2 linked regions of the Homo sapiens genome follow. The protein of the gene in region 2 interacts with the protein of the main gene of each other region in a pairwise test. Each region holds a gene or a part of one and is shown on either strand. Other genes may lie near its edges.

Region 1 (3,907 bases), on a different chromosome or scaffold from region 2:
CCATTAAAATTCAGATACACTAAGTTAACTGACAGGATGACTTGATTCTTCCTATATCTGAATAGTTTTCCATAAAAGTGACTTATTGAAACTGGTTTGCCCTCATATCTCAATCGTGTCTTCATTACAGCTTCTCTGTGCTCAATGTCTCCTTTATGAAATAAACAGCCATCTCTGTCCCTGGAAGAAATGTGCCAAAAGATTTTAAGGAGATAGGCATTATTCAAAGGCAATATATTATTTTAAAATATAAATAAAAGTGGAACTTATTAAAACTGAAGGTCTTGGCTTGTCACCTATCATAGGAATGAAATATAGGGAATAAAGTTAAGTTCAGAGATAATTCTACAACTTAAAAATTTTGGTCACTGATTTTGGTGTTTAATATTTTTTCTTACAGAATTCATAGAAATATTAATTTCTATGATGATTCTGATTGCTATACTTAAAACTTGAAAGCCAACAGAGAAATGTTTGTCAAGTTGTCAACAAGGAGATTTTTGAAGGATGTTATGGAAACTGAATAAGTAAGCCTGAGGCAAAAAGTCTAACATCATTGTGACATATATAAAAGATGACACTAGTGATCCCTTTACAGTTTTATTAATAATTATTATTTTTCGTATACCGGTTGCACTGATTCATTTTTGCTCTTTTATTTTTTAGGCAGATGGCTGGTTTTTGTAGGATTAAGCAGTGAGGAAAAACAGCAAACTAAAAATGCTACTTCAAATATAGCAACAGTCACTACATAAGGCTTAAATCAATATATTGCAAGTAATTTCTATGAATTTTGAACAATACAATGTAGTGTATGTGGAAAGATCTTGCCTAATAAGTTTCATTCTACTCCTCAAAGTTACTGAAGTCAGTCAACTATTAATAACAGAATTGTTTTTATAGAAAGATTCCATCTTCTTTACTGTTAGATGTTATACGTGTCTTGTACTAGGATAAAATAATGAGCATTGTGCATCGCACCTTCTGATAATCTCATACTTCTATAAATACTAAGATAAATAATCACTCTTTTAAATTTAGAGAGAGTTGGTTTTAGGCTAACAATTTTTTTTCTTCTTTCCAAGACAGAGTCTTATTCTGACGCCTATGCTGGAGTGCAGCAGTGCAATCTCAGCTCACTGCAACCTCTGCTTCCCAGGTTCAACCAATTCTTGTGCCTTCACCTCCCGAGTGGCTGGGATTACAGGCATGTGCCACCACACCCAACTAATTTTTGTATTTTTAGTAGAGACAGGGTTTTGCCATGTTGGCCAAGCTGGTCTCGAACTTCTGACTTTGAGTGATCTGTCCGCCTTGGCCTCCCACAGTGCTGAGATTACAGGCTTGAACCACCATGCCCAGCCTCTAACAACTAATTTTAATAAGTATTACTGGACTAGTCTACAGGTTCACTGAAAGAAAGGCTACCTGTGAGGATGCGTTTAATTAGCTTTTGCCCTTATATCTCAATTCTGTCTTCATTACAGCTCTGTGCTCAGTTTCTCCATCTATGAAATAAATACAGCCATATCTGTCCCTGGAAGAACTATGTCAAAAGATTTTAAAGAGACAGGCATCATTTGAAGGCAGTATTATTTTAAAGTATCAATATTACATTTCTTGCAAAGAGCTGCTGACAGTTAGTTCTTGCCTTTTTTTTTTTTTTTTTTTTTTTGCTCTTTTAATGAGTTTATTCTGTCAATAGGGAAAATATCAACTTTAAAATCTAAACATATGCCACAAAATTTTGGGACAAATTTTGAGTTGAAGACGGCAGTACAAACTCATGTTTAGCTTTGTACACACATAAATAATTATAGATGTGTACATATGCATGGATTAATATACATACATATTTCTCAACTCTGCTACAAACAGTGACATCCCAGTAGCAACAAGCACATCTAATGCCCAGATCTTGGTTTCTAAGTATGATTCTCCAACAAAAGGAACCAGGGCTCTTTGGAGCAGGGGTTGATTCTAGGGATTCTAGGGTTGGGGCAGGGAATATCCAAGATGAACCTGGAGCATCTTGTAGTGCCAGAAAGTAAGAAGTGCTCAAAAATCAAAAGGATGGGCACATCAAAGGGACATAGTAGCCAACCTGGCAGAACTCCTAATAGCCAAGCTGGACAACTTAAGCAACAAAATAAATACTGTGTTACCCAAAATACAAAATATACATGAGTCCATACTGATGTAAACAAATTAGGGTGGGAGGGAGAAACAAATTTTCCATATAGAAAAATTCCAAATACTACATATGGATATTCCCACTTCCAGGGGGTTGAATGTAATCTTTCCCACCCACCACCTCCCATGACTGGACTTAGTGACTGTTTTCCAAAGAACAGAAGTATGGAAAGGGAAAATAACAGTAATTTTCAGCAGCAAAAAACCAACACACACTACCTTAACCAAGTGTCCAAAGTTAATACACCATCAAGCTGATAGCATGTAACTCCTGACATGATGCAGTGAGAAGGACCTTCACCTCTGGTATTCTTCCTAAAAATCTATAACCCCACTCTAACCATGAGGAAAACATCAGACAAACCCAAATTGAGGAATATTCTACAAAACACCTGACCAGTACTCCTCAAAACTGTCAAGGTTATGAAAAAGAAAGACTGTGGAACTATCACAGACCAGAGGCTAATTAGGCATGACGACTAATTCAGTGTGGTATCCTAGATTGGATCCTGGAAAAGAAAAATGACATTAATTAAAAAACTAGTACAATCTGAAAAATAAAGTCAAAGTTCCGTTAATAGTAATTGCCATTGCTGGTTACTTAGCTTCTGACAAATGCTTCATGGTTAAATAAAAGGTTAACACTGGGGGAACTGGGTGAGTGGTCACAGAAGCTCTCCATGTATCTTTGCAACTTTTCTGTAAATCTAAAATTATCCCAAGTTTTTTTTTTTAATCTGAACATAAAAAACTGTTTCTACTGATTTTTGTATAATTTGTGATCACGAATTATATTTTATAACGATATTGAGTTTGTCCTTTTGAGAAAGCCAATGCTGCTAACAAAATCCATGAATTCATTGTAAGTGTAAAGTTACCTGGACAAATATTTCAATAGTAAATATTGATAAACCATTTTTTTTTTAGAGTCTTGCTCTGTTGCCCAGGCTGCAGTGCAGTGGCACAATCTCAGCTCACTGCAACCTCCACCTCCTGGGTTCAAGTGATTCTCGTACCTCAGCTTCCTGAGTAGCTGAGACTATAAGCATGCGCCACCACGCCCGGCAAATTTTTGTATTTTTAGTAGAGACGCTGTTTCACCATGTTGGCCAGCTGGTCTCAAACTCCTGACCTCAAGTGATCCAACCGCCTCAGCCTCCCAAAGTGCTGGGATTATAGGTGTGAGCCACTGTGCCCAGCCGATAAGCATTAATTATTAATAATGGCTTACAAAACTGTACCTTTTATAAAGGTTTGAAATAAAGAATCAATTGAGGGTCCCAAACATTTAAGTGGAAACCCAGTTTGCTCACTTAGCCACAAGGCATACATGTGCCTTGTCTCACTGGAACAGCTGCCACCAATTCAAGTTGGAAGATACTAGGTTCCCGGCAATGACATATCTCCAAAGTTAGGAACATGGCCCTTTCTCCAGAACATACTTTTCCTTCTGCCCTGTTCTACCTGTAATGACTTACAAATAACCGCCTCTCCCTATGCTGTCCTTCTCTGACTTTGAAAGTCAGTTCATCTTAATAACTTTGGCCATGGGTCACCCAAAGGATATATATGGCTTGAGGTCCCAGGCTAGGGAAAGGTTAACAACCAGTAGTCAGCAAAGACCGGTCTAGGAACATAACTGAGCATTCCAAGAGATTGAAAAGTTTTCAACATTCATAGACATCTTCAGAAGCTGTTGAAGTTTTCTTGGATT
Region 2 (2,806 bases):
TTAAGAAACAGGTTCTTACTTTACTGCCTAGGCTGGAGTGCAGTGGCCCAATCACAGCTCACTGCAGCCTCAACCTCCCAGGCTCAAGCAATCCTCCCACCTCAGCCTCCTGAGTAGCTGGGACCAGAGGCACATGCCACCATGCCCAAATAATTTTATTTTTTGTAGAGATGGGGTTTTGCTATGTTCCCCAGGCTGTTGAACTCCTGGGCTCCAGTGATCCCCCTGCCTCAGCCTCCCAAAGTGCTGGGATTACCAGTGTGAGGCACCGCGCCCAGCTACATACATTTTTAAGCATATTTTAACCCTGTGCCGCAGATCAACACTGGCAGGCCGCGTGCGCAGGGGAGTGCTCAGTAACTGCACACTGGTGGAACTGTCCCTGCCTCAAGCTCTGGGAGGGGCGGGGGGACAGCCCAGCAGGCCAGCTTCTTACCCATATTGTCCACTCCTCGCGGGATGATCACATCGGCATACTTCTTTGTCTGTAAGGCACAAGGGGGGGTGTTCCTGTGAGGACTTTTCCTTCAAAGGTGATTTTAAGATGCTCAGAAACAGATGCAACAGCAGGAGGGGCGGCCCTGGGGTGCTCAGAGGTGCTGGTGTCATCGGCAAATGGGGGACACAGACTCAGTCATCAGCCAGGTGTGAGAGGCCATGATCCAAGAAGTGAGGCAGAAAGTGCAGCTGAGGCAGCCAAAAGAAAGTGCCTCTTCCAGTGTCCCCATTCCATCACAGAAGACAGCCCCCTTCCAGTGTTCCCACTCCATTACAGGAGACAGCTGGCTACGCTAACGACTCAATTCACTGGGCCAAGCTAAGTGTGGCACTTCTACAAAGTGTGACATTGTTCCTCTGGAATCATGAAGCTTCTGCAAATACCCTGGCACAGCAACAGGACAGCCGCCGCCGTGCATAATTACTGCAGGCAGAGACGCTGATGGTAACTTACTCCCTCATCCAACCACTCATTGGCTCAATGCTGACTCTCATTCCCTGTCAGATGCTCTGCTGCTGAGGAAGGACAAGGATGGAGATATATCAGGAAATGCAGGGCTGCTGGGGAGGGTCCGCAGCCAGATGGTGGGGGTTGGGGGGTGGCTTTAGGGAAGGGGAAGCAGCCTGGAGAACATGGCTGAATCAGACAAAGCTGAGGGAAGAGGGAGGGCAGGGTCTGGGCCGAAGGACGGAACTTGGAACGGTGCGTGCTGCTGGCGTGTGGATTTGGGTCAAGAAGGCGGCAGAAGAGACAAGCTGCAAGAGGCAGACAGGGACCAAGTCCTGGGGACAGCTGTGTCTGCAGTTGGTGGGACCCCATCTCATGAAAGCACGAGCGCAAGGGCGAGGGCTGCTTTCTATTCTAGTCTGATAGTCTGACGGGCTGGAGGAGTCCGGGAGAGCTGACAGGGGTCTTAACCGCCAGCAGGGATGGGCCTGAATACAGTTGGGAAATACCTACGGGGTCCAGGCAGAGGACTGCACAAGCCACTCAACATGAAGGTGAAGGAAAAGGAGGCTCAAGAACGGCTCTGGGTGGGGCTGGGGCCGGGTGCGGTGGCTCACGCCGGTGATCCCAGCACTTTGGGAGGCTGAGGTGGGTGGACTGCTTGAGGCCAGGAGTTTGAGACCAGCCCAGCCAACATGGCAAAACCCCGTCTGTGCAAAAAAAAAAAAAAAAGGAAAAATTAGCCAGGCGTGGTGGTGCGTGCCTGTAGTCTCTGGCTACTCAGGAGCCTGAGGTGGGAGGATCACTTGAGAGTGGAAGGTGGAGGCTGCAGTGAAGCAAGATCTCACCACTGCACTTGGGCCTGGGTGGCAGAGGGAGACCCTGTCTCAAAAAACAAGCAAGCAAACAAACCAACCAAAAACATCTCTGGGGCCTGGGCCCAGAACATAGCAGGTGACAGCACTTCCTCTACTCAGGTCGCTGAGGCAGATTTGATATCCAGAGTTTTACTGCGAATCACCTACTTTTTGCCAAATATCTTTCTGTGAATGAGAGACTAAAACAAGTTAACTTTACTTTTAAAATTATATTTTAGAAATTTCAGACAGCATGAATGCAAAAAAAAACAAAAGTTTTCTTTATATAGCAGCCAATAGGCCAGGCATAGTGGCTCACACCTGTAATCTCAGCACTTTGGGAAGCTGAGGTGGGAGGACCACTAGATCCCAGGAGATGGAGACCAGCCTGGGCAACACAGGGAGACCCCATCTCTACAAAAAATTTAAAAATTAACCGAGCATGGTGGTGCACGCCTGTGGGCCCAGCTACTCGGGTTGCTGAGGTGGAAGGATCGCTTGAGCTTAGGAGGTCAAGACTGCAGTGAGCTGTGATTGCACCACTGTACTCCAGCCTGGGCAACAGAGCAAGACTCTGCCTCATTAAAAATAAAATTTAAAAAAAGGCCAGGCACAGTGGCTCAATCCCAGCATTTTGGGAGGCCAAAGTGGGTGGGTCACTTGAGTCCAGGAGTTCGAGACCAGCCCAGCCAACATGGCAAAACCCCATCTCCACTAAAAATACAAAAATTAGCTGGGTGTGGTGGCGTACGCCTGTAATCCCAGCTACTCGGAAGGGTGAGACAGGAGAATTGCTTAAACTTGGGAGGTGGAGTTTGGAGTGAGCCGAGATCGTGCCATTGCACTCCACCCTAGACGACAAAAAGAGACCCTATCTCAAAAAAAAAAAAAGCAGCAGATAGAACTTACTTGTCCTACATTATCAAAGGCAGGAATCTTGGTTTCAGTTCCTTTGTGCTGTATTTTTACCTTAACAGGCAAAATGTTCCCGTGCAAAACACTC

Evidence for each region.
Region 1: the proteins of UCK1 (region 2) and PLA2G12A interact in a two-hybrid assay, tested with the Homo sapiens proteins (one large-scale study listed by BioGRID and IntAct).

The regions. Positions count from the first base shown.
Region 1 is NC_000004.12:109,709,402-109,713,308, forward strand, and holds the end of PLA2G12A (group XIIA secretory phospholipase A2 precursor), read right to left. Parts: 3' UTR 588-3,907; downstream 1-587. UniProt on the Homo sapiens protein: PA2 catalyzes the calcium-dependent hydrolysis of the 2-acyl groups in 3-sn-phosphoglycerides. Does not exhibit detectable activity toward sn-2-arachidonoyl- or linoleoyl-phosphatidylcholine or -phosphatidylethanolamine.
Region 2 is NC_000009.12:131,525,493-131,528,298, forward strand, and holds part of UCK1 (uridine-cytidine kinase 1), read right to left. Parts: intron 1,012-2,806; exon of another isoform or gene 953-1,011; intron 486-952; coding exon 437-485; intron 1-436. UniProt on the Homo sapiens protein: Phosphorylates uridine and cytidine to uridine monophosphate and cytidine monophosphate. Does not phosphorylate deoxyribonucleosides or purine ribonucleosides. Can use ATP or GTP as a phosphate donor.